4 separate regions of the Homo sapiens genome follow, and all the other regions are linked to region 2. Evidence: fine-mapped expression QTL. A gene starts in region 2. Each other region holds a variant in brackets. All regions are shown on one strand. Distances are between the middles of the regions.

Region 1 (6,254 bases), 140 kb before region 2:
AAAGACATAAAGTGAGCAAAATTAATATAGTAGTTTAGTTTATTTGGGTCAAGGTTGAGGACTGCAGACTGGGAAATGCTGAGAAGTGCTCCAGAGAATGAAGGAAAGGCTCATGTTTTTAAAGAAAAAAGGACAAATTAGGAGAGGGGGCAATTACAAAAATTGTTTGTTAAGAATTCTCATTGGTGTAGAGAAATAACTGATTAGTAATTGCTATACATTGTTGAACTATAGGGTATGAATTATGGTGTCTAGCATATGGCATTGTTAGGTTAGTTTATGGTTACTTGGTGGTGACAGTCTAAAGTCCATACAGCAGGCAGATTACTTAGCTCAAAGAGGGGAGTGAGAGATGACTACTTTCACATTTTAATGCCTCACTGGGCCCAGTAATTTAAAAGAGCTCACGTTCCTCAGATAAAAAGTTTCTTGTCTTTCTTGGTATACAGATGACCAATGCCAAATTTGTTTTTCAATACAATTTATATTGTGTGGTTATTTCACAAAATCATCCAATTCCATCTGGTTTTTGATACTTATTCTACCTCTTGGAAGGATATAACAACCTCATTGTCGAATACTCTGGTGGATAAATATTAAAAGTACTTTGTAGACATAAATAGCTCAAATTATTCCTCCTGAATCATGTCAGAAGAAAACTGCCTATGATTCAAAACTTTATGCTTTGATAACTCATTTCAAACAGAAAATAAAGAGGGCATCAATGTAAAAACAACAAGAACAATACCTAGAATAGGTTCTCAATTTCTTTAATTTTGTGAAATGTTAGAATTGAAAAAATAAATCAGAAGTTGTATAGTTCAACTTCCTGCCAGATGTAGAAATGGTCATACTCTTAAATGATGGGTTACCTCAACACGAACCCTTCTTTGATGGGGAGGACTCTTTATTGTGAGGTGGCCTTATCCAATTTCTAGTGGTTGTAATTTTTAAAGAAAAAGAATTTCAATAGGACACCTTTCCCCATTAAGAAAAATCTAGATATTCAATGATTCTTTTAAAAATCTAATTTAGTAAGTACTTACATAATATTTATTCAATTTTGTCCTATATAACAAACCATTGGTCATTCCAGGCCATGTGGAGATCTTGGTTAGTTTACATCTCATTTTCCTGCTTCACAACGTTAACTGCAGGTTGACCAAGCAAGATACAGTGTCAATTGACTCTTAACTCAGTGTCAGATTATACTTTGCAAGACTCAAAAAAGGGTGAGGAACGGAGAATGTTCTGTTTACGCGATCACTAACACTCTAATGTCATTTTAAAAATGAAATAATTTCACACCCGTAATCCCATCACTTTGGGAGGCCGAGGCAGGCAGATCACAAGGTCAGGAGATCGAGACCATCCTGGCTAACACGGTGAAACCCTGCCTCTACTAAAAATACAAAAAATTAGCTGGGCGTGGTGGCAGGCGCCTGTAGTCCCAGTTACTCGGGAGGCTGAGGCAGGAGAATGGCGTGAACCCAGGAGGCGGAGCTTGCAGTGGGCCGAGATCGCGCCACTGCACTCCAGCCTGGGCAGTAGAGCAAGACTCCGTCTCAAAAAAAAAAAAAAAAAAAAAAAAAAGAAGAAAGAATTGTTTTTTTTTTTCTCTTGCTCCTTGTTTAAAAGTACATTTTTAAGCCTGAAATTAAGCCTAATATTCAATATGACTATGAACACATCACTCAAAATCCATGGTAACAATTCAGTCTTTAATATTCATTCATGTCACAAATTTAATTGTACAAGTTAAAGGTAAACATTGTTTAATGGTACAAAAATATAAACAATGAATCACAAAAGACTTGTGGTAAAATATAGTCATGGGATACCTAACCATACCTGACATTTTTTGAGTGCTTTCTTTGTGTTAAATCATTTAATCCTCTCAACAACCTTAAGACAGGTAGTTTTATTAAACATATTTTATAGATGAGGAACTTGCACAGAGAGGTGCACTAATCCCTTTATTTAACAGATGAGGTATTTTTATTGCTAATTGATAACTATAAGCATACTGAATGAATAAAGAAGAATCAAATAGCAATAAAAAATGATGCAGGCGATATCGCCACTGATCCCACAGATAAAACAATAAAAAATGATAATAAACCAATAAAAAATGATACAGGGGATATCGCCACTGATCCCACAGAAATACAACTACCATCAGAGAATACTATAAACACCTCTACGCAAATAAACTAGAAAATCTAGAAGAAATGGAAAAATTCCTGGACACATACACCCTCCCAAGACTAAACCAGGAAGAAGTTGAATTTTTGAATAGACCAATAACACGTTCTGAAATTGAGGCAGTAATAAATAGCCTACCAACCAAAAAAAGCCCAGGACCAGATGGACTCAAAGCCAAATTCTACCAGAGGTACAAAGAGGAGCTGGTACCATTCCTTCTGAAACTATCCCAAATAATTGAAAAGGAAGGACTCCTCCCTAACTCATTTTATGAGGCCAGCATCATCCTGATACCAAATCCTGGCAGAGACACAACAAAAAACTTCAGGCCAGTATCCCTGACGAACATCAATGCAAAAATCCTCAATAAAATACTGGCAAACTGAATCCAGCAGCATATCAAAAAGCTTATCCACCACCATCAAGTCAGCTTCATCCCTGGGAAGCAAGGTTGGTTCAACATATGTAAATCAATAAATGTCATCCATCACATAAACAGAACCAATGACAAAAACCACATGATTCTCTCAATAAATGCAGAAAAGGCCTTCGAAAAAATGCAATATCCCTTTATGTTAGAAACTCTCAATAAACTAGGTATTGATGGAACATATCTCAAAATAATAAGAGTTATTTATGACAAACACAGCCAATATCATACTGAATGGGCAAAAGCTGGAAGCATTCCTTTTGAAAACCGGCACAAGACAAGAATGTACTCTTACCACTCCTATTCAACATAGTACTGGAAGTTCTGGCCAGGGCAATCAGGCAAGAGAAAGAAAGAAAGGATATTTAAATAGGAAGAGACAAAGTCAAACTGTCTCTGTCTGTAGACAACATGATCCTATATTTAGAAAACCCTATTGTCTCAGCCCAAAAACTCTTTAAACTGATAAGCAACTTCAGCAAAGTCTCAGAATACAAAATCTATATGCAAAAATCACAAGCATTCCTATACATCAATAGACAAGCAGAGAGCCAAATCATGAATGAACTCCCAATCACAACTGCTACAGAGAATAAAATACCTAGCAATACAGCTAACAAGGGAAGTGAAGGACCTCTTCAAGAACTACAAACCTTCTCCCTCTCCCTCTCCCTCTCCCACTCCCTCTGCCTCTCCCTCTCCCTCTTTCCACGGTCTCCCTCTGATGC[C/T]GAGCCGAAGCTGGACTGTACTGCTGCCATCTCGGCTCACTGCAACCTCCCTGCCTGATTCTCCTGCCTCAGCCTGCCGAGTGCCTGCGATTGCAGGCGCGCGCCGCCACGCCTGACTGGTTTTCGTATTTTTTGGGTGGAGACGGGGTTTCGCTGTGTTGGCCAGGCTGGTCTCCAGCTCCTAACCGCGAGTGATCCGCCAGCCTCGGCCTCCCGAGGTGCCGGGATTGCAGACGGAGTCTCCTTCACTCAGTGCTCATTGGTGCCCAGGCTGGAGTGCAGTGGCGTGATCTCGGCTCGCTACAACATCCACCTCCCAGCAGCCTGCCTTGGCCTCCCAAAGTGCCGAGATTGCAGCCTCTGCCTGGCCGCCACCCGGTCTGGGAGGTGAGGAGCGTCTCTGCCTGGCCGCCCATCGTCTGGGATGTGAGGAGCCCCTCTGCCTGGCTGCCCAGTCTGGAAAGTGAGGAGCGTCTCTGCCCAGCCGCCATCCCATCTAGGAAGTGAGGAGCGCCTCTTCCCTGCCGCCATCCCATCTAGGAAGTGAGGAGCGTCTCTGTCCGGCCGCCCATCGTCTGAGATGCGGGGAGCGCCTCTGCCCTGTCGCCCCGTCCGGGATGTGAGGAGCGTCTCTGCCCGGCCGCCCCGTCTGAGAAGTGAGGAGACCCTCTGCCTGGCAACCGCCCTGTCTGAGAAGTGAGGAGCCCCTCCGCCCAGCAGCCGCCCTGTCTGAGAAGTGAGGAGCCCCTCCGCCCGGCAGCCACCCCGTCTGGGAAGTGAGGAGTGTCTCCGCCCGGCAGCCACCCCGTCCGGGAGGGAGATGGGGGGGTCAGACCCTCGCCTGGCCAGCCGCCCCATCCGGGAGGGAGGTGGGGGGATCAGCCCCCTGCCCGGCCAGCCGCCCCGTCCGGGAGGCGAGGGGCGCCTCTGCCCGGCCGCCCCTACTGGAAAATGAGGAGCCCCTCTGCCCAGCCAGCCGCCCCGTCTGGGAGGGAGGTGGGGGGGTCAGCCCCCCGCCCGGCCAGCCGCCCAGTCCGGGAGGGAGGTGGGGGGGTCAGCCCCCCGCCTGGCCAGCCGCCCCGTCCAGGAGGTGAGGGGAGCCTCTGCCTGGCCGCCCCTACTGGGAAGTGAGGAGCCCCTCTGCCCGGCCAGCCGCCCCGTCCGGGAGGGAGGTGGGGGGGGGTCAGCCCCCCGCCTGGCCAGCCGCCCCGTCCGGGAGGGAGGTGGGGGGGGGGTCAGCCCCCCGCCTGGCCAGCCGCCTCGTCCGGGAGGGAGGTGGGGGGGGTCAGCCCCCCGCCCGGCCAGCCGCCCCGTCCGGGGGAGGGGGGGTCAGCCCCCCGCCCGGCCAGCCGCCCCATCCGGGAGGCGAGGGGAGCCTCTGCCCTGCCGCCCCTACTGGGAAGTGAGGAGCCCCTCTGCCCGGCCAGCTGCCCCGTCCGGGAGGGAGGTGGGGGGGGTCAGCCCCCCGCCCGGCCAGCCACCCCGTCTGGGAGGGAGGTGGGGGGGTCAGCCCCCCACCCGGCCAGCCACCCTGTCCGGGAGGTGAGGGGCGCCTCTGCCCGGCCGCCCCTACTGGGAAGTGAGGAGCCCCTCTGCCCGGCCAGCCGCCCCGTCCGGGAGGGAGGTGGGGGGGGTCAGCCCCCCGCCCGGCCAGCCACCCCGTCTGGGAGGGAGGTGGGGGGGTCAGCCCCCCACCCGGCCAGCCACCCTGTCCGGGAGGTGAGGGGCGCCTCTGCCCTGCCGCCCCTACTGGGAAGTGAGGAGCCCCTCTGCCCGGCCAGCTGCCCCGTCCGGGAGGTGAGGGGAGCCTCTGCCCTGCCGCCCCTACTGGGAAGTGAGGAGCCCCTCTGCCCGGCCAGCTGCCCCGTCCGGGAGGGAGGTGGGGGGGGTCAGCCCCCCGCCCGGCCAGCCACCCCGTCTGGGAGGGAGGTGGGGGGGTCAGCCCCCCACCCGGCCAGCCACCCTGTCCGGGAGGTGAGGGGCGCCTCTGCCCGGCCGCCCCTACTGGGAAGTGAGGAGCCCCTCTGCCCGGCCACCACCCCGTCTGGGAGGTTTACCCAACAGCTCATTGAGAACGGGCCAGGATGACAATGGCGGTTTTGTGGAATAGAAAGGGGGGAAAGGTGGGGAAAAGATTGAGAAATCGGATGGTTGCCGTGTCTGTGTAGAAAGAGGTAGACATGGGAGACTTTTCATTTTGTTCTGTACTAAGAAAAATTCTTCTTCCTTGGGATCCTGTTGATCTGTGACCTTACCCCCAACCCGGTGCTCTCTGAAACATGTGCTGTGTCCACTCAGGGTTAAATGGATTAAGGGCGGTGCAAGATGTGCTTTGTTAAACAGACGCTTGAAGGCAGCATGCTCGTTAAGAGTCATCACCACTCCCTAATCTCAAGTACCCAGGGACACAAACACTGAGGAAGGCCGCAGGGTCCTCTGCCTAGGAAAACCAGAGACCTTTGTTCACTTGTTTATCTGCTGACCTTCCCTCCACTATTGTCCTGTGACCCTGCCAAATCCCCCTCTGCGAGAAACACCCAAGAATGATCAATAAAAAAATAAATAAACCAAAAAAAAAAAAAAAAAAACCAAAAAAACAATACCAGGGCATAGGCCCCACCCTAAAACCATTAAATCAGAATCAGAATCAGAAATTCTGAGGGCAAAAACCTGGATCCAGACAAGTGTATCTAAAAGTTCTCCAGGTATTTCTCATGTGCAACCAGGATTAAGAATCACTAATGCCAGGTGCAGTGGCTCATCCCTGTAGTCCCAGCACTTTGGGAGGCCGAGGCGGGTGGATCACGAGGTCAGGAGGTCGAGACCAGCCTGGCCAATATTGTGAAACCCTGTCTCTACTAAAAATACAAAAACTAGCCGGGCGTGGTGGT
Region 2 (6,254 bases):
TTGTGGAGCAGGGGGTATGACACTATTAAGTATATTTACTAATTTTGTTTATTATCTACAAATGTTGTTTATTCCGAAATTTTAAGTATATAAAAATCATTTTTGCAAATAGGATTTCTAAAGTTGATCATTAGATGCCAATAAGTGTATCATTACAATTTTAAAACAAAAATATAAATTTTCATATTTTGGGATTCACGTGTTTGCTGCCCATTATTTTTTCAGAGCAAGTACCAAAAACTGGAGTGCACTCTACTTCAGAAGTTTTTCTCATGTTAAAGTCAGAGCAGTTAGGCTGTAATGGATGTGCCAATATAAAAAAAAATTAAATTTACACATTATTTGCCAAAAAGTGCACTCGACTATCATCATTATTCAAACATTTCAGTCAGTTGCCTCCACAACTCACTTATTTTAAAACTATAAAGTGAAGATTCCTTTCCCCTCTTGTTCTCATAATCAATTAAAATATACATTACTCATTCAACTTTTAAAATTTGTCTCTCTTAAAAGATTTTAGTCCATTAACTTGGATTTCCCACATCTGAATGTAAAACCAAGGTGCTTAATTCAATTTAATGATGATTTCAGAAACACAAAGTTACGTCACGTTACTAGAGGTTAAAAACACACACACATACACACTGGTTTTGTGAAAACCTTGATGGCAAGCAAGATATTCACCATCTCTTCTTTTAAATTATAGCTTTAAAAAGGGGGTGAGGGTATCCATTGAAGAATAAAGCCTGCTTTCTGTCACACACACACACACACACCCCAATCATATCTATCAGACCTATTCAAGTTGCCACAACATGACTATTGTCAAAGCCAAAAAAATTCTCCTTTAAAATATTTAAACTTCATTTTAAAATTAAAACTGAAAGCAAGATACTCAACTGCCAACTACTGTTGATGAAACTATTAAAGCCTGCACTGACCTACTTCATATCAGCATCATGACGGCATGGATGCATGCCAAGAAAATAATGAAAATTACTATATAACTAACCTAAATCTTGTATTTAAAAATTGTCACTTTAAAAATGTGCAAATACTGTTCATGCAACGCCAGTTGCTTTACGATATGTTTTCAAAATGAGAAAATGAGTTTTGATATTTTAGTACTCATATTCAATGATGGCCCTGCAAAGATTTCATTTCCATTTTCAAAATCAAGGCTTTTTAAAATACCATATAAAATTCTTTTTAAACTTCTATTAAAAGCAATCTTAGACCAAATTCCAAATATTACTTTCCATTTAAAAAATATTGCTACACTTAAAAAAGGCAGTTAATGAAGCATCCTACAAAACAATGCAAGTTCATGTTCAAAGAATATTGCAATGGCTCTAACAGTGGATGGACTTAGTGTATTTAATTATTAAAAGATTCCCACTAGACTTTAGGAGTTTAATGCTGAAATATTGGAAATTTTCATACAAGAAAGTAAAATAGCGAAAGATATTCCATCAATGGTTTCTTTTAAAAAGACATACAAATGGCAAGACATTTGATTCCCTATATTTTAATTTAAAAAAAAACCACTTTGTTGTAAACTACCATCTTAAAATATTTTATACTAAAAAAGCACTTTCTTCACAATCAATGCAAAGAATAAACTCCCTGAAAAAGAAATTTAATATTAGGATAAGGGAGGCAAAAACATTCAGAAATAGCAGCTAACCCAACTGAAAGGAAGAGACACATTAGGTTTTGTGCTGCATATTAATATTCTTACGCACAGTATCTGTTTGGTGAAAATTCACAATACACTTCTTCCTCCTTCTATGGCTGCAAAAAGGAGTAAACACATTTCACATTCTCCAGTTCCAAATTCATGCCACCATCATGCAATATGACTTAATTTCGACCCATATTTCTGTTACAATGAGTGAAAAAATAAAACCAAAAAACTTGTTTATCTGCACTCACAATTGAGGAAGGGGTAAAAGCATTTTTTAGCTAAGAAGACAGGGGCTGATTGATGCAAAGTCCGCACACCTCCAGAGATCCTACAAATGTGCACCCGACTGGGGAAAGCCACATTCAATGAATGCATCAGCCTCCTCCTCCGCTCCCCCCGCCCGCCGCCCCCCACCCACTTTGCAGCAGAAATGTGCCTGGGCTTTTTCACGCGAGCGATGGAGGATCCTCTTACCAGATGGAGTTCTTGATCTTGTGTTGCAGCGCGCTGGCCTCTGTCCCTGGCAGCCCGGGCACAAGGGCTGGCAGGGCCACCCCCGAGTTGGGGGCGCTGGGGGGAAGCTGCTGATGGGCATCAGGCTGCTGTGGTGGCGGCTGTTGTTGTTCCTCTGCCATCGCTGCAGAGGGGTGGGAGGGAGGGAGGGAAAGATGGGGGCGCGGGGAAGGGTGAGGGAAGAGACCGGGAGGGGAGGACGAAGGGGGGAGAGGAGGAGGGGGAGGGGGAGGGGAAGAGGAGGAGGAGGAGGAAGGAAGCTGGATAAGCTAGGCCTTTACCCCAGGGCTCGAGTGAGTCGCTTTCGCCTGCCGCCTGGGGAACATCACCGGGGAGACCAGCGGCTCCTCACGGCCGGGGCGCTTCACCGCGGGAGAGGCATGGCGGCGCCCCTCAGCCCCCCGCTGGCGCCGCCGCCTCCTCCCGTCAGCGGCCGGGGCTGTGGGGGGGTGAGATGGGGGCGTTTGAAGACGAAGTGGGGGGGGCAGGCTCCCCCCAAAATCCAAGAAGAACGGTTGCTCAGGGATTTGGCGGCCAAGCCTTCCTTCCTTGTCCCCGGGGCTTTCTACTGCCGGGTCCCCGTGCTGCTGCAGCCCCAGGCACCGCTCCACGCCACTCCCCACGCCGCCGCCGCCGCCGCCGCTCGCTCCCGGCCCCGCCGCCGCCGCGGCCGCCGCTGCCCTGCCAGCCCCGGAGGCAGCCCAGTGCGCGCAGCCGCACTGCGGCCCGGCGCAGACCGCACAACACCTACCGCTCCGCCGGGGGGCGTGGACCAGGGTGTGCGGGCCGCGGGCGCGACGGGCCGGGATGGGGGCGCACGGCGCGGAGGGCGGCGCGGGCCAGCGGGCCAGGGAAGCGCGCCGCTGGGGGCCGGGAGGAGTCCGGCCCGGCTGGTGGAGAGCAGGAAAACGTGGGGGAGGTGCTGGCGAGAGAAAGAGAACTTGCGTGAGGAGGAGGAGGAGAAACCAAATTTAATAATATTTGGCGTGGAAATGGGATTTGGGCGGGGGAGGCATCTTCAAAGCAAGTAAAGAGAAATCAACATTATCCCCCTTCCCCTGCACATGCATGTGAGGATTACTTCCTCCCTGAGTAAATGAAGAGAACTGAAGCAGGTAAGACGATAAACTGACTTTTCAGAAGCCCCCAAAGAAGAACACCCGTTGGAATTAACCACCCTTTAGGTAATTCGGTCTTGAACGGAAATCGCGAGTCAGGAGCTGGGTTGAGTGCTCCTCGGTCGGGCATTCAAAGCCCTCCAAATCTGGCCCCACTTTAACTATCCAATCATAGCGGCCTCCATCCCCCTGCAAGAACTCCCGGCTCCAATCAGGGAAGTCTCCATGCCATCCTCAACGCGCAGCAGATTCATTCTTCCTTCGTGCCTTTGCTCATGCTGTTCCCCTCCACCTCCCCACCCCACCCCACCCCCTTTCCAGGAATGCCCTCCCTCCTTTATACCGCTCCCAATTCCACCCAGGCTCTAAAGCATAGCTCAAGTCGCGGCTTGTCAGGGTCCCTGCAGCCAAGGCCACTGCCTGCCTCTGAAAGAAACGCATGTAGTACTCACAACATGGAGGCTCAGGCGTCAGCCACGAGCTCCTTCCTTTGGAGCCCGTTGAACACCCGCCCTCCCCCCGCAGACTCCGCACCATTCCCCCCCTTCCCATTCATACCTAAATGATAGCTTTGCCACAAATAAGTCAGTCTCCTTTAAGAGCAGAAGAATTGGCTTTTCTAGGTGGGGCTGATCAGGGAGGCTGCGTGGATGTAGAATACAACAGCCAAGGCCTCTGGCACCAAATGGAACAGCTGTTCAGCTCACACTGACCTTTCTTTGGGCCCGTGGGTGTTATGAGCCCTTCAGCTTTAACTTTTCTGATAGAGTGTCTATCAGGTTTCTACCTGTTAGATCCTCTGGCCACTTTCCTGCTGTGTGTGGACTTTGGGCTGTGGGGCTCTGCCACCTTTTAGACTCCTAGTGGATGGTGAATCTGATTGGCTTGGGTTGCCTGGCCTTTGAGTTCTCAGTTCCCTGCCTTGGCCTGAAACCCTCTTGCTTTTGTCCACTGTGCCCTCTCTCCTGGCCCACAGACTTAAGGCCCAGACTCACACTGAATGCTTGCACGTGGTGAGGGTTGAGGGTGGGGGTGCAGGGAGGAAGAACACCTGTGTGCAAAATAAGCCGCCCCCCCGCCCCCGGGGCCTCTTGGATTACGCTGTGCTCCAACTACCCATTGCACGAGTTGCATCACACAAATGAGCCCCCTTTTCCATACTCTAAGGTCTCTATTAGCTTAGCCACTTTAGGAAACTATAGGTGGTTTACGACATTCATTTTGCATACATATCTTCATGTGGGTGTGTAAAGACAGTATTTTTGTGGACCTAATTGATAGACATGGTGTGCACTAGACAGAAGCTTTGAAGGATAAAAATAGCTAATGTTTGTTGAACACTTTGTGTGCCAGACTAGCACTTTCCATACATTATCATAGTTATTCCTCCCCAAGAGTGTATAATGTAGGTATTATTAGTCTCCCTCTGTTACAGATGAAATGGAAGCTTAGGTTAATTAACATTCTTAAAATTACCCAATTAGTAAATGCAGGAGCCAAAATTTGAGTCCTGGAAGTTTAATTCCAGAGCCTGCAAGCTATGCTGAAACTGGAATTACGCTGAAAAATCTTGAATGTAGGTATATATATACGTGTGTGTGTGTATGCCCTATATCACGTTGAGGAAAGTTGCCAAGTTCCCCAAGGTTCTAATTTTTTGCCTTGCCAAGAGAGAATGATGGCTCCAAGTTGCAACACCCTGGGAGGGGGAGATCCTTAGGAAGTGGGAGAGTCATCGAGGGGGTAACGTATCTAAGGTCTGCCAAAGGCCTTAAGAAAAGGAAGCCGAGAACCAAGACGTTTTATAAAAAGTTCGCTACCGGGTGTCACACAGGCTGGCTTCCCAAGTGCAACTTCTGAGAGTTTTTAATGGGTTCCATAAAAGAGCCAGGTCACCCCAGCAGCCACTAGAGGGCTCACGAAGCTGCAGCCGCGGGCTGCCCTCTAGCGGCGGTGCTGACCGGAGTGTGGTGGTAAACCTTTTCCGGCCTTCCAGGACCTACAGGGAGTTGAAGGAGACCAGCAATGGGAGGGGTGGCAGAGAGTATCAGACTGAGGAGACCTTATTGCCAGAGTGAGATACCCTTTCAGGGAGGAAAGGGGCAGCCCTCACTACTCACTTAACATCTGGGAGTACAGTGGGTGTTTTGTTCCAGTCTTCAGAGAAGACTGTGAATAAAATCATGACATTAAGAAATCTGATGAAGTTACCCAAAATTTTGAGTGTGGACTCAAGCCAAACCCAGGGACCCTGAATAAAGGCAGGAGTGTAGCCATGTGCTTCTCATATTATGTGGGTTCCTTTGATTGTGCAACCCTGTACTGAGGACCCTCAAGGACCCAGAATCAATGTGGCTCATTTTCTCTGAGCATCATTTTGACTCTCTGGTAAATAAGGTAAGACATTGTAGTAAGCATGACTTTTTAAGATAACACACAAGTATTACCCAACCCTGAGGAGCCTAAGTTTATTCTCTACTGGGAAAGTGTACACCAGAGGAAAATTTTGAGGAACACTGATGTAGTGGGTTAGAAAAACCTGGCCTTGGAGTCAGAAGACCTGGGAATTCAAACCCTCTGTTTCGATCTCTATAAAAATGAAAATAATGATGTACATCAGAGGGTTGCTATAAGGAAAACATGAAAAGTTATAGGTAAACCAGGGAAGTGTTGTCCACATTTAGAGAGTATCTACAAGATGGATTGTCAGCACCTCAAAGGAAATGACTATTTTATTTATCCTAGTAGTCCCAGGACATAATTCCTGACTCCTGACTATTTAATAAATATTTGTGGAATTTAGTAGTTAACTAACCCTCATTTTCCTAGCCCAATCCATTATATTGTCTTGCTCTCTTGTGTCTGTAAACCTTGTCTCCTTTATGAAACTGTAAACATTTTATACTGTCCAGACTGTAGTATATACATTTATCATG
Region 3 (6,254 bases), 96 kb before region 2:
AAAATTCCATTGCAATGAAAAATGTGGACAGATTACTGGCATTCCTGGTAGAATTTATTCTTACTTAATAAAGCACAGTTTAAACAGAGATTCAGTTTTTGAAAATACTTAACATGATATAACCAAGCCTATTCTTAGTCTTATCAGAAGATATCCACAAAAGTTTAATCTTAGAATCCATCCACATAATGATTTAATCAATCACATGCAAATAGCTCCCAAATTTACATTTTTAAAATCCCATGGCCTACAGGTATTTTCCAATTGGCTCTTGCTCCAATACCTAATGTTATCAGCTATACCCTTGTGTAGCTCTCCCCTCAAAGAAAACAAACACACATTCTCTTCTTAATTGCTACTTATCATCACCTTCTTTTCTCTAGTTTCCACAGTGTTCAGTTTGGGAGTGTGTTTAACTCTTTTTCTCTTGGTGCATTCCACATTAATCCTTTATTTAGCCCTCTAACACTCTGCCCCATCTTCTTCCAGTCTCGATTTTTCACTGCCACCACAGTAGTCTAGGTCTTCAGCTGTCTTTCTTTCAAGAATAAGGATAATTCGTTTGCTTATGCATTACTTTTGTTTTCTGCTATGTTCCACAAGTGGCATAAAATAACTATGAACCTATACTATGTATCACAAATCATACAAAGAGTGAACAATACAACAAAGATGAACAACACACCACCACCACAGTTCTTGCCCTTAATGAACTTTTAATGACACTTAAATTTCTAAAATGTCTAACCAGCTGGTTTTCCTACCTCCGATGTCACCCCACTTTAATGTCTTAAATATGGTTCCTGAAATTTTTTTTTGTCAAATTGTTTTTTTTAAGAGAGTCTCACTCTGTTGCCCAGATTGAATTGCAGTGGCTTAATCATAGCTCACTGCAGCCTCAAACTCCTGGGCTCAACTGATCATCCCACCTCAGCCTCCCAAGTAGTTGGGGCCAGAGGTGCGTGCCACCACAGCCACATAATTTTTTAATTTATTTTTTGTAGCTTGTTGCTACAAAATTGTTGCCTAGGCTGGTCTGGAATTCCTGCCTGGCCTCAAGTGATCCTCCTGCCTCCCAAAGTGCTGGGATGCTAGGTATGAACTACTGTCAAATATTATTAACATCACCCACTTAATCACACCAATGCCAATCATATTAAATTAAGAGAAGGTTATAATAATAAAATACCTAATATTATGAGCCATGTCTGAGAAAGTGTAATAAAAATATCATTTTTGATCATAAAGAAAAAAATCTACTGTTGGAGAAACCTTGGATTCTATATAGCTTTCAAATTTTAAATATACTGGAAAAAAGAATAGAAAAGAAATTCCAGAACATAGAAGAAATTTCAGAAGATGTTCTAAATTAGTATTAAGCACCAAAGAGATGATTTAGAAGATGGCAAAAAAAAGTTTTGAAAAAGATTAAAGTCAGTGTCCTAATTTTTTTTAAAACAATGAAAACTTGTAACTGTTCAATTACTGTTTTCATTGCCATATGGGGTACAACACATAGAAGAAAAAATTTGGAGAGCAGCATGAAAACTGATAATAACAAAATTCTATAAAGCAAACAAAAAAAATGACTCAAGTGTATAGTGATGGCATTTCAGTCCAGCAAGGCTGGGCTCATCATCAAGATTTCTGGTTTTGGATATACTGTGTCATCCACTGCTAATTAGTGGCTTCTGAAACAATGCTCACTGGTTTAGGAGAAGACCCTAACCTTGCTTGATTGTCAAGGCAAGAGTATCATGTGGCAAGTATGTTAAACATCTGATTATTTGATATGCTTTATGACAATTTAAATGATAAGAATTAAAAGTTTTCTGTTCTATGTTGAAATTCGTTGGTGGTCAAAAAAAATTCCTTTGGCTGGATTTATAAAATAAATCATAATGGTATTCTATTTTTGGAGCACCAGAGAAAAGACCAACTTCATAAACTTTAAAAATTATAATTTTTTATTTAGCCATAAAAGGAATGGAGTACTGATACATGCTACAACATGGATGAACCTTGAAAACATCGTGCTAAGTGAAAGAAGCCAGACACATATCATGTGATTCTGTTTATATTAAATATCCAAAATAGGCAAATCCCTAGGGACAGAAAGCAGCTTAGTGTTTCCCAGAGGCAGATGACTGCTTAAAGGGTACTGAGTTTCCTTTTGGGGTGAGGAAAAGGTTTTGAAACTAGATTCAGATGGTACTTGTACAACACAGTTAATGTACTAAATATCACTAATGGTAAATTTTATGCTATGTATATTTTACTACAATAAAAAATCTAATTTTTTTTTTTTTGAGGTGGAGTCTTGCTGTGTCGCCCAGGCTGGAGTGCAGTGGTGCAATCTCAGCTCACTGCAAGCTCCGCCCCCCGGGTTCACACCATTCTCCTGACTCAGCCTTCCGAGCAGCTGGGACTACTGGCACCCGCCACCAGGCCCAGCCAATTTTTTGCATTTTTAGTAGACACAGGGTTTCACCGTGTTAGCGAGGATGGTCTCGATCTCCTGACCTCATGATCCGCCTGCCTTGGCCTCCCAAAGTGCTGGGATTACAGGCGTGAGCCACCATGCCCAGCCTAAAAACTCTAATTTTTAACAGAGATTTGCACATTTGGAAAACATATCTGATGATTCGAAGTGAAACTTAAATGACAAACAACATTTGTAGACTTAAAAGTCTTCACTTACTTGAGTTGAAGAAGTTCTCAAAGAAAAGCTAGTGAAAACGGTTTCAAATTTAGGCAGAACCTCAAATATTATTCAAGTCTTTTGAATGAGGTAGCTGATAATTTCATACTATTGCAGTTGAAGATCTTGCCTGAAAACTTAAAAGACCTCTTTCTCATGCACTTCAATCTTTGCAAAAAGATATTAAAAAGGAATCTTTGAACTCAAGTTTGATTTATATGTCAAACACATTCCAGGAAACAATTTTGGAGAATTTTCAAAAAATATCCTTGGTTATTTCCAGCAAGTGAGCCGACCTTGCATGTCATCATCCCATTTTCATAAGCAAAGATTTATGAAGACGGTTTTTCTGAACTTTTAGCTATGAAAGCACAACAATGCTACAAACTTAATGACGATTGAGATGGTACTTTGACCTTTCACATTCTGGACAGAAAAGCCTGTAGCAAACAATCAGATTCAACATTCATTTTTATATTATGTGATCAAGGGGAAAATGAAGGCATAGTGTAAGATCAAGTTGCTTTTGGAGGTTGAAGGTGGACTTTGGTGTTTGAATCCTGCCACGCAACCCCCTTCCCTTCTAAAACTTTGGTTGACAAAAAATACTGACATAAGAACTAGTAACATGAAGCTAATTCTTTCTATGAGGTGCAAGTGTAGAGGTGAAGAAAACATGGGACAGAGACAGTATTCCATCTGCTCACCTACATTTCTCAGTCCACTTTGCAGTTAGCTTGTAGTCATGTGATTATTATGAATCTGATCACAGTGATGTAATTCACTACTCAGCTGACAGTTAAGAATCAATGTGTCGGCCGGGGGCAGTGGCTCAAGCCTGTAATCCCAGAACTTTGGGAGGCTGAGGTGGGCGGATCATGAAGTCAGGAGATTGAGACCATCCTGGCTAACACGGT[G/A]AAACCCCATCTCTACTAAAAATACAAAGAAAATTAGCCAGGCGTGGTGGTGGGAGCCTGTAGTCCCAGCTACTCGGGAGGCTGAGGCAGGAGAATGGTGTGAACCCGGAAGGCGGAGCTTGCAGTGAGCTGAGATTGCGCCACTGCACTCCAGCCTCAGCGACAGAGCGAGACTCCGTCTCAAAAAAAAAAAAAAAAAAAATCAATGTGTCACCCCATCCCATTTCCCCCTCTGTGGCACCTTGGAAGCCATGTGTTGCACTGGTGAAGCTATAACATGTCAGCCTTCCTGTCAATGTTGGTTCTGAGGGATTATTTGGAACAGTGGTCTTCAGTGATTTCTGCTGCATATGATGTGAATGAAAATACATTTTTGTGGTTAGGCCACTGGTATTTCAGGCTTAGTTACAACATCATAGATTAGCCCATCCTGATTAATATAAAAATTAGACTCTTTCCTCTAGCACCTTTGAGGAAACTGAAGGATCCTTTTTACATATGCAGATAAAAATGTGGAAACAGACAGGAACAGCACCGGTCTGCAATTCCCAGCGAGATTGATGCAGAAGGCGGGTGATTTCTGCACTTCCAACTGAGGTACCTGGTTCATCTCACTGGGACTGGTTGGAATGTGTGTGCAGCCCACGGAGGGCGAGGCGAAGCAGGGTGGGGCGTCACTTCACCTGGGAAGCACAAGGTGTCGGGGAATTTTCCCCCCTACCCAAGGGAAGCTGTGAGGGACTGAGCCTGAAGAACTCCAGCACAGACACTGCGCTTGTCCCATGGTCTTCGTAACCCACAAACCAGGAGATTCCCTCTGGTGACTACCCTACCAGGGCCCTGGGTTTCAAGCACAGAACTGGCTGGCCAATTGGGCAGACACCGAACTAGATGCAGGAGCTTTTTTTTTTTTCTTCTTTGCCATACCCCAGTGGCATGTGGAATGCCACTAAGACAGAACCATTTACTCCCCTGGAAAGGGGCGCTGAAGCCAGGGAGTCAAGTGGTCTGGCTCAGCGGGTCCCACTCCCACGGAGCCCAGGAAACTAAGATCCGCTGGCTTGAAATTCTCGCTGCCAGCACAGCAGCAATCTGAGATGCACCTGAGACAGTCGACCTTGGTCGGGGGGTTGCGGGGTGGGGCGGGGGGGTCGGCCATTGCTGAAGCTTGAGTAGGCAGTTTCACAGCCACAGGATAAACAAAGCTGCTGGGAAGTTCAAACTGGGTGGAGCCCACTGCAGCTCAGCAAGGCTGCGGTGGCCAGACTGCCTGATTGCCCCTCTCTGGACAGGGCATCTCTGTAAAACAGGCAGCAGCCCCAGTCAGTGGCTTATAGCAGACTTAAACATCCCTGCCTGATGGCTCTGAAGAGAGCAGCAGAACTCCCAGTGCAGCGTTCCAGCTCTGCTAAGGCTCAGTCTGTCTCCTCAAGTGGGTCCCTGACCCCTGTGTATACTGACTAGGAGACACCTCCCAGATGGGGCCGACAGACACCTCATACAGGAGAGCTCTGGCTGGCATCTGGCAGGTGCTCCGCTGGGTCGCAGCTTCCAGAGGAAACAACAGGCAGCAATCATTGCTGCTCTGCAGCCTCCGCTGGTGATACCCAGACAAACAGGGTCGGGAGTTAACACATCCACTCAAAGACCCCACTGGAAGGTCACCAACATCAAAGACAAAAGGTAGATAAATCCACAAAGATGAGGGAAAACCAACGCAAAACGGCTAACAATTCCAAAAACCAGAACGCCTTTCCTCCTCCAAAGGATCACAACCCCTCGCCAGCAAGGGAACAAAATTGGATGCAGAATGAGTTTGAAGAACTGACAAAAGTAGGCTTCAGAAGGTGGGTAATAACGAACAACTTTGAGCTAAAGCACCAGGTTCTAACCCAATGCAAGGAAGCTAATAACCTTGAAAAAAGGTTAGTTGAATTGCTAACTAGAATAACCAAGGTAGAGAAGAACATAAATGACCTGATGGAGCTGAAAAACACAGCACGAGAACTTCGTGTAGCATACACAAGTATTAATAGCCAAATCGATCAACCAGAAGAAAGGATATCAGCTGAAGATCAACTTAATGAAATAAAGCGAGAAGACAAGATTAGAGGGAAAAAAAAAAGGTACGAGTCAAGCCTCCAAGAAATATGGGACTACGTGAAAAGACCAAATCTACATTTGATTGGTATACCTGAAAGTGACAGGGAGAATGGAACTAAGTTGGAAAACACTCTTCAGGATATTATCCAGAACTTCTCCAACCGAGCAAGACAGGCCAACATTCAAATTTAGGAAATACAGAGACCACCACAAAGATACTCCTCGAGAAGAGCAACCCCAAGACACATAATCGTCAGATTCACCAAGGTTGAAATGAAATAAAAAATGGTAAGGGCAGCCAGACAGAAAGGTCAGGTTACCCACAAAGGGAAGCCCATCAGACTAACAGCAGCTCTCTCGGCAGAAACCCTACAAGCCAGAAGAGAGTGGGAGCCAATATTCAACATTCTTAAAGAAAAGAATTTTCAACCCAGAATTTCATATTCAGCCAAACTAAGCTTCATAAGTGAAGGAGAAATAAAATCCTTTACAGACAAGCAAATGCTGAGGGATTCTGTCACTGCCAGACCTGC
Region 4 (6,254 bases), 160 kb before region 2:
GATGGGGTTGCTTGTTTTTTTCTTGTAAATTTGTTTGAGTTCTTTGTAGATTCTGGTTATTAGCCCTTTGTCAGATGGATAGATTGCAAAAATATTCTCCCATTCTGTAGGTTGCTTGTTCACTCTGATGATAATTCCTTTTGCTGTGCAGAAGCTCTTTAGTTTAATTAGATCTCATTTGTCAATTTTGGCTTTTGTTGCCATTGCTTTTGGTGTTTTAGACCTGAAGTCTTTGCCTGTAATGTTAGTAGGTTGGCACAAAAGTAATTGCGGTTGAGCTGGGTGCAATGGCTCACACCTGTAATCCCAGCACTTTGGGAGGCTGAGGCGGGTGGATCATCAGAGGTCAAGAGTTTGAGACCAGCCTGGCCAACATGGTGAAACCCCATCTCTACTGAAAAACACACAAAAATTAGCCGGGGTTGGTGGCACACACCTGTAATCCCAGCTACTCGGGAGGCTGAGGCAGGAGAATTGCTTGAACTGGAGGGACAGAGGTTTGCAGTGAGCCAAGATTGCACCACTGCACTCCAGCCTGGGCAACAAAGTGAGACTCTGTCTCAAAAAAAAAAAAAAAAAAGTAATTGTGGTTTTTGCCATTACACTCAATGGCATTATGTCATTCCTTCCTCATTCATTAGATAGAATATTTCTTTTCCTTTTCTTTTCTTTTCTTTTCTTTTTTTCTTTCTTTTTTTGAGACAGAATCTTGCTCTTGTCACCCAGGCTGGAGTGCAATGGTGCGATCTTGGCTCACTGCAACCTCCGCCTCCCAGGTTCAAGCAATTCTCCTGCCTCAGCCGCCGAGTAGCTGGGGTTACAGGTGCACACCAACACGCCCAGCTAATTTTTGTATTTTTTATTAGAGACGGGGTTTCACCATGCTGACCAGGCTGGTCTTGAACTTCTGGCCTCAAGTAATCTACCCATCTCGGCCTCCCAAAGTGCTGGGATGCTAGAATATTTATAACTAGAGCATCCCCCCTTATCTATTATTTCGTTATCCAGTGGTCCAGCTCACAAAGGAAAGGCAGGATAAATATTTGTTTCTTTCTCTTTATCAATTAAAATAAGTTGGTTACCTATCATCCTCAAAAGGTGAGCAGTTAATTTTTTAGGATCATTAAAACTCATAGACTTAAACATATTTTAAGTGTTTTGATCTGCTGAAGTTATCATCCTTATTGAGCTTACATTGTCCCATCTGTGTCCAGTGGCAGCTTCTGCAAGTTGGCTCTTGAGTCTTTTTGACATGACCTCTATAGTCTTTGGAAGCTTCCTTGCTATTGTACACCAAGATGTTCCATGAGTTCATGCTGATACTTGGAATTCAAAGTCAGGACTGCAGAGTTTTTACTTAAAACTTCTTTCTTACACAGGCATAGCCTTTCTTCTGAGAGTCCAGGTTCTCAGGGACCTAAGAAATATAAAACTAGAATATCACACAATTAGTTTGCATTGTCTTACATTACATATACAACAGTCTCAGTGAAATCACCTATTTTATCAACACACATCTTATTGAAAAAGTTAAAAAATTATTTGCATAGGCACTTTCCACGTTCTTTAGTTGTATGTACATTTTCAGATGATGTGTCCAGTACATAGTATATACTCTCTCCTCTTTAACCTCATGTAGTCTTAGTTTTACAATAGGTATTTAATGCTCAATGCCAGTCCTTAGGTTGACTTCTCTCTAGTCATTTGGATGTCCAAAATTTGTTGTCTAGAAAATTCCTAGGAAATGTGCAAGAAAACAATATAGAATGCCTGTGTCTCACAGTGTTTCCCACAGAGGATGGTGTCAAACTTAGATTTTCGCCAACCTAAGTGAGAAGTGGTATCTTGGTGTAGTTTTAATTGTATTTCTCTTATTATGAGTCAGACTGAACATTTTTTTTTTTCATGTCTAAGTGTTACTGGAAAGGAGTCCTGATCCAGACCCCAAGAGAGGGCTCGTGAAAGAAAGAATTAGGGGTGAGTCCATAGGGTAAAGTGAAAGTAAGTTTATTGAAGTAAAGAAAGAATAGCACTCCATAGACAGAGCAGGGTATTCCCAAAAGCAAGAGGAGGAACATGTTCGCCTTAGGTGCCATGCTTGTTTGTACATAAGATAACAAAGCAAAAAATCATGGGGAGATGTATTCTACTACAAGGGTTTGTCACAAAAGATTGCTAATCTTTGTATAACTGCTGTCTTCTGCGATAATCTATATTATTATGTTGAAAGCAAAACTTATTCTTAAACTAAAAGTGCTTTTGTTTTTAAGATATTGGGACACCAGGACATTTCCTGGGTCTGTTATATCCTGGGTCTGTTAAGTCCTGGGTCAATTCAGTAAACATTATTAACGTGTTCCTTTAACATTATTAACCTATTTCTTTTAACCGTAAACATCCTTTGGCTATGAATGGCTAACCTGTTGGGAATGTGGCCCAGCAGGTCTCAGCTTCATTTTACCCAGCCAGTCCATGTTCAAGATGGAGTTGCTCTGGTTTGAACACCTCTTACACAATGACCATTTCTTTTTCTGTGAGCT[C/G]TCTGTTAATATCCTTTACCCATTTTTCTATTAGATTTTGGCCTTCTGCCTCCCACCATTTTAGGACTTCTTTCCATATTAGGGATATTACCCCTAATACGAATATAAAGGGGTATGTATGTGATATAAGTTGCAATATCTCTTCCTAGTTTGTCATTTGTTGCCTGACATTACTTATAGGGCCTTTTTGCCATGTGACGCTATATGTAATACCTTGTTGGGCTAGCTCTTCAGACACTCCTTTCTTTTCGGATTTTTTGGGCTATACTTATCTGTGTTCTCATTTTAAATGTATATCCAATTTTCCAAGCTCTAGAAAAGAATTGGCATTTTTGTGGGAATCATGTTAAATGTATTAATTAACTTACGGGGCATTGATGTCTTTACGATGTTGACTCTTCTCATCTAAGTACGTTTTCCTGTTCCATTTGCTCTGGTCTACCTTGGACCTTTCAGTGAAAGAGGCTTTTGTTTTTTTTGAGACGGAGTCTCACTCTGTCGCCCAGGCTAGAGTGTGATGGCATGATCTTGGCTCACTGCAGCCTCCGCCTCCCGAGTTCAATTGATTCTCCTGGCTCAGCCTCCTGAGTAGCTGGGATTACAGGCGCCCACCACTGTGCCCGGCTAATTTTTATAATTTTAGTAGAGACGGGGTTTCACCATGTCGGCCAGGCTGGTCTCTAACTCCTGACCTCATGTGATCCACCTGCCTCGGCCTCCCAAAGTGCTGGGATTACAGGTGTGAAACATTGTACCCAGCCAGTAGAAGTGTTTTAAAGGTGTTCTTTATATAAATTTTATATATTTCTTAAGTTCATGCTTGGATATTTTATCTTTTTTGTTATTAGCATAAAAAGGGTCTTCTCGACAGTGTGGTGATTACTCAAGGATCTAGAACTAGAAATATCATTTAACCCAGCCATCCCATTACTGGGCATATACCCAAAGGACTATAAATCATGCTGCTATAAAGACACATGCACACGTATGTTTACTGTAGCACTATTCACGATAGCAAAGACTTGGAACCAACCCAAATGTCCATCAATGATAGACTGGATTAAGAAAATGTGGCACATATACACCATGGAATACTATGCAGCTATAAAAAATGACGAGTTCATGTCCTTTGTAGGGACATGGATGAAGCTGGAAACCATCATTCTCAGCAAACTATCTCAAGGACAGAAAACCAAACACCGCATGTTCTGACTTATAGGCGGGACTTGAACAATGAGAACACTTGGACACAGGGTGGGGAACATCACACACTGGGGCCTGTCGTGGGGTGGCAGAAGGAGGGAGGGATAGCATTAGGAGATATACCTGATATAGATGACAAGTTAATGGGTGCAGCACACCAACATGACACATGTATACATATGTAACAAACCTGCACGTTGTGCACATGTACCATAGAATTTAAAGTATAATAATGATAAAAAATAATAATAAAGGATCTTCTCTTGCGTTGTATCTTCTAACTAGTTATTGCTTATATCTATGAAGGCTATTGACTTCTGAATATCAAAGGCTTTTGAGTTAAGGACTACTATGATGGCATTGTACAGAAATTATTACAGAAGTTATAAATAATTTGGTATTTCAAATGAGAAATTCATCCATCAACCAAGGCAGGGTCAGGAAGGAAAGGAAGAAACAAATAGATATGTATTTCAAAGGTATGGGACTTAGAAACTCATTTGATGTTGAGGAAAGGGTGAAGGAAAGGGCATGTGAGTTTTCTTTTTTCTTTTTTTTCTGTTACCCAGGCTGGAGTGCAGTGGTGTGATTTTGGCTCACTGCAACCTCAGCCTCCTGGGTTCAAGTGATTCTCCTGCCTCAGCCTCCCAAGTAGCTGGGATTACAGGCGCCCACCACCATGCCTGGCTAATTTTTGTATTTTTAGTAGAGATGGGTTTTTGCCATGTTGGCCAGGCTGGTCTCAAACCCCTGGCCTCAAGTGATCCACCCACCTCAGCCTCCCAAAGTGCTGGGATTACAGGCGTGAGCCAGCATGCCTGGCTGTGTGAGCTTTCAACTGGTAACTGCAGTGATAACATTGTTAACAGAAAATAGGAAGCGGAGAAGGTTGGAGAAAAAGAGAAGGTGTGTCAGTTTGGGCATTTAGATTTTAAGACTGGAAGTAAATAGAGAGGTCAAATGTGAAAATTTAGATTTGGAGGCCATCAATAGAGCTGTAGGAGTTTCTGAAATGACTAGGGAGAGAAAGTAGAATAATAAGAGAAGAACCAATGACAGAATGTCAAAGAATTTTTATATTTAAATAATAGGTAGAGGAAGCTGGTCCCTGAAAGAGTCCAAGAATGAAGGATCTGAGAGGTAGAAGGTGAATGAGAATACAAAGTCATAGAAACCAAACGAACAGGGACTTGGCTTATCAATTATGAAATTACCAGTACTTCTTAAGGCAGCAATCTCAGAACTGTTATGAAGATGAGCTAAGACTATGAAGGATTCAGTAAAGAGATATGTTAACTAGGAATGGGTTTGTGGTAGGAAATTTATACTGTGTGTTTCAAACACGTGAAGTCCAAATACAAGAGATCTCGTGATTCAAATAATCTATGTTAAACAAATATGCTCAGATATAGCTTGGCTTAAATTAAAATGGTTACTAACACTTATTTCTTGTTTATTGCCATTAATTCAAAGTTCAGTGCCTTTCTGAATATGGATTTATACTTTACCTTCTGACACATGTGTATGTGGTGGGGGTAGAAGGAGGCTTCAGGTAAAATATAACATTTAAGTGCTAAAAAGGACAATAATTTTTCCCACTCTCAGATAAATGTCTGTTCTTTCACACAGGTATTTATGATAATGATAACCTCTTAGACTTAGGGTTTACAACATATTGTCATATTTCACAGAGACTCACAAGATTCTGGGAAGTAACTAGGACAGGGATCATTATTTCTTAAAGTGCAGAGACGGTAGAAGAATGATAGAACCGGGTCCAGATCTAAGATGTTCTTGACTCCTAGCCTATAGGCATATGTTATGAGTCAGGGTGGAGTGTAGAAAATGTTTATTCTAGGTATTTTAAACAGAAAAGGATTTAATGCAGAGGTTTAAGTGCTTATAAATACAGTTGGCCCTTCATACCATAGGTTCCTCATCTGTAGATTGAACCAACCACAGATTGAAAATATTTGGGATAAAAAGCCAATAAATAATACAACAAGAAAAATATACCAATAAAAATAATAAAGTATAACCACTATTTACATAGTATTTACACTGCATTTTTTTTTTTTTTGAGATGGAATCTTTCTTTGTTGCCCAGGCTGGAGTGCAGTGATGCGATCTTGGCTCACTGCAACCTCCGCCTCCTGGGTACGAGCAATTCTCCAGCCTCAGCCTCCCAAGTAGCTGGGATTACAGGAGTGCACCACCATGCCTGGCTAATTTTTGTATTTTTAGTTGAGACAGGGTTTCCTCATGTTGGCCGAGCTGGTCTCGAACTCCTGACCTCAAGTGATCCACCTGCCTCAGCCTCCTAAAGTGCTGGGATTACAGGCCTGAGCCACCGTGCCTGGCTTGCATTAGGTTTTATAAGTAATCTATAGATGACTTAAAGTATACAGGAGGATGTGCATAGGCTATATGCAAATGCTATGCCATTTGCCATTTTATGTAAGGGACTGGAGCATCTGCAGATTTCATTATCCCTAGGGATCCTGGAACCAA

Alleles and levels. Positions count from the first base shown, and alleles are read on the strand shown. Sizes are in standard deviations (SD) of each study's normalised expression.
In carriers of allele C in region 1, the expression in thyroid of the gene that starts at base 2,916 in region 2 tends to be higher than with T alone (moderate effect, 0.46 SD a copy in GTEx).
For the expression in subcutaneous fat of the gene that starts at base 2,916 in region 2, allele A in region 3 goes with a lower level than allele G (moderate effect, 0.64 SD a copy in GTEx).
As copies of C replace G in region 4, the expression in CD8 T cells of the gene that starts at base 2,916 in region 2 goes up (moderate effect, 0.42 SD a copy in Kasela 2017).

What was found. PIP is the estimated chance that this variant, and not a neighbour inherited with it, causes the effect. A credible set is the group of variants that fine-mapping cannot tell apart.
Region 1: its variant is the best candidate, but not a certain one, in a credible set for the expression of RFX7 in thyroid (GTEx, PIP 0.81).
Region 3: its variant is the best candidate, but not a certain one, in a credible set for the expression of RFX7 in subcutaneous fat (GTEx, PIP 0.55).
Region 4: its variant is the best candidate, but not a certain one, in a credible set for the expression of RFX7 in CD8 T cells (Kasela 2017, PIP 0.65).

Annotation. Positions count from the first base shown.
Region 1 is chr15:56,105,730-56,111,983 of GRCh38, forward strand. The region is part of intron 5 of RFX7 (regulatory factor X7); the gene reads right to left. Among named protein-coding and RNA genes, the nearest start is that of NEDD4, 120 kb to the left of the region's middle. The variant C/T (reference allele first, on the strand shown) is at 3,364.
Region 2 is chr15:56,240,964-56,247,217 of GRCh38, forward strand. RFX7 (regulatory factor X7) reads right to left here and starts at 2,916. Exons shown (of 10, transcript NM_022841.7): 1 at 2,482-2,916; 2 at 2,162-2,324. The coding sequence starts at 2,322. It overlaps LOC124903569 (laforin-like), which reads right to left and starts at 3,855. Exons shown (of 3, transcript XM_047433428.1): 1 at 3,771-3,855; 2 at 3,020-3,216; 3 at 2,388-2,919. The coding sequence starts at 3,855. The coding sequence ends at 2,470. It also overlaps a transcript of TEX9 not described here. RefSeq lists silencers at 2,442-2,511, 2,602-2,661, 2,812-3,101, 3,592-3,641 and enhancers at 2,888-3,533, 3,534-4,179, 3,892-3,941, 4,180-4,825.
Region 3 is chr15:56,145,283-56,151,536 of GRCh38, forward strand. All of the region lies in intron 3 of RFX7 (regulatory factor X7), which reads right to left. LOC124903498 (a long non-coding RNA gene) reads left to right here and starts at 4,123. Exons shown (of 2, transcript XR_007064648.1): 1 at 4,123-4,215. RefSeq lists a silencer at 4,569-4,863. The variant G/A (reference allele first, on the strand shown) is at 3,619.
Region 4 is chr15:56,080,027-56,086,280 of GRCh38, forward strand. No RefSeq gene overlaps it. Among named protein-coding and RNA genes, the nearest start is that of NEDD4, 90 kb to the left of the region's middle. The variant C/G (reference allele first, on the strand shown) is at 2,541.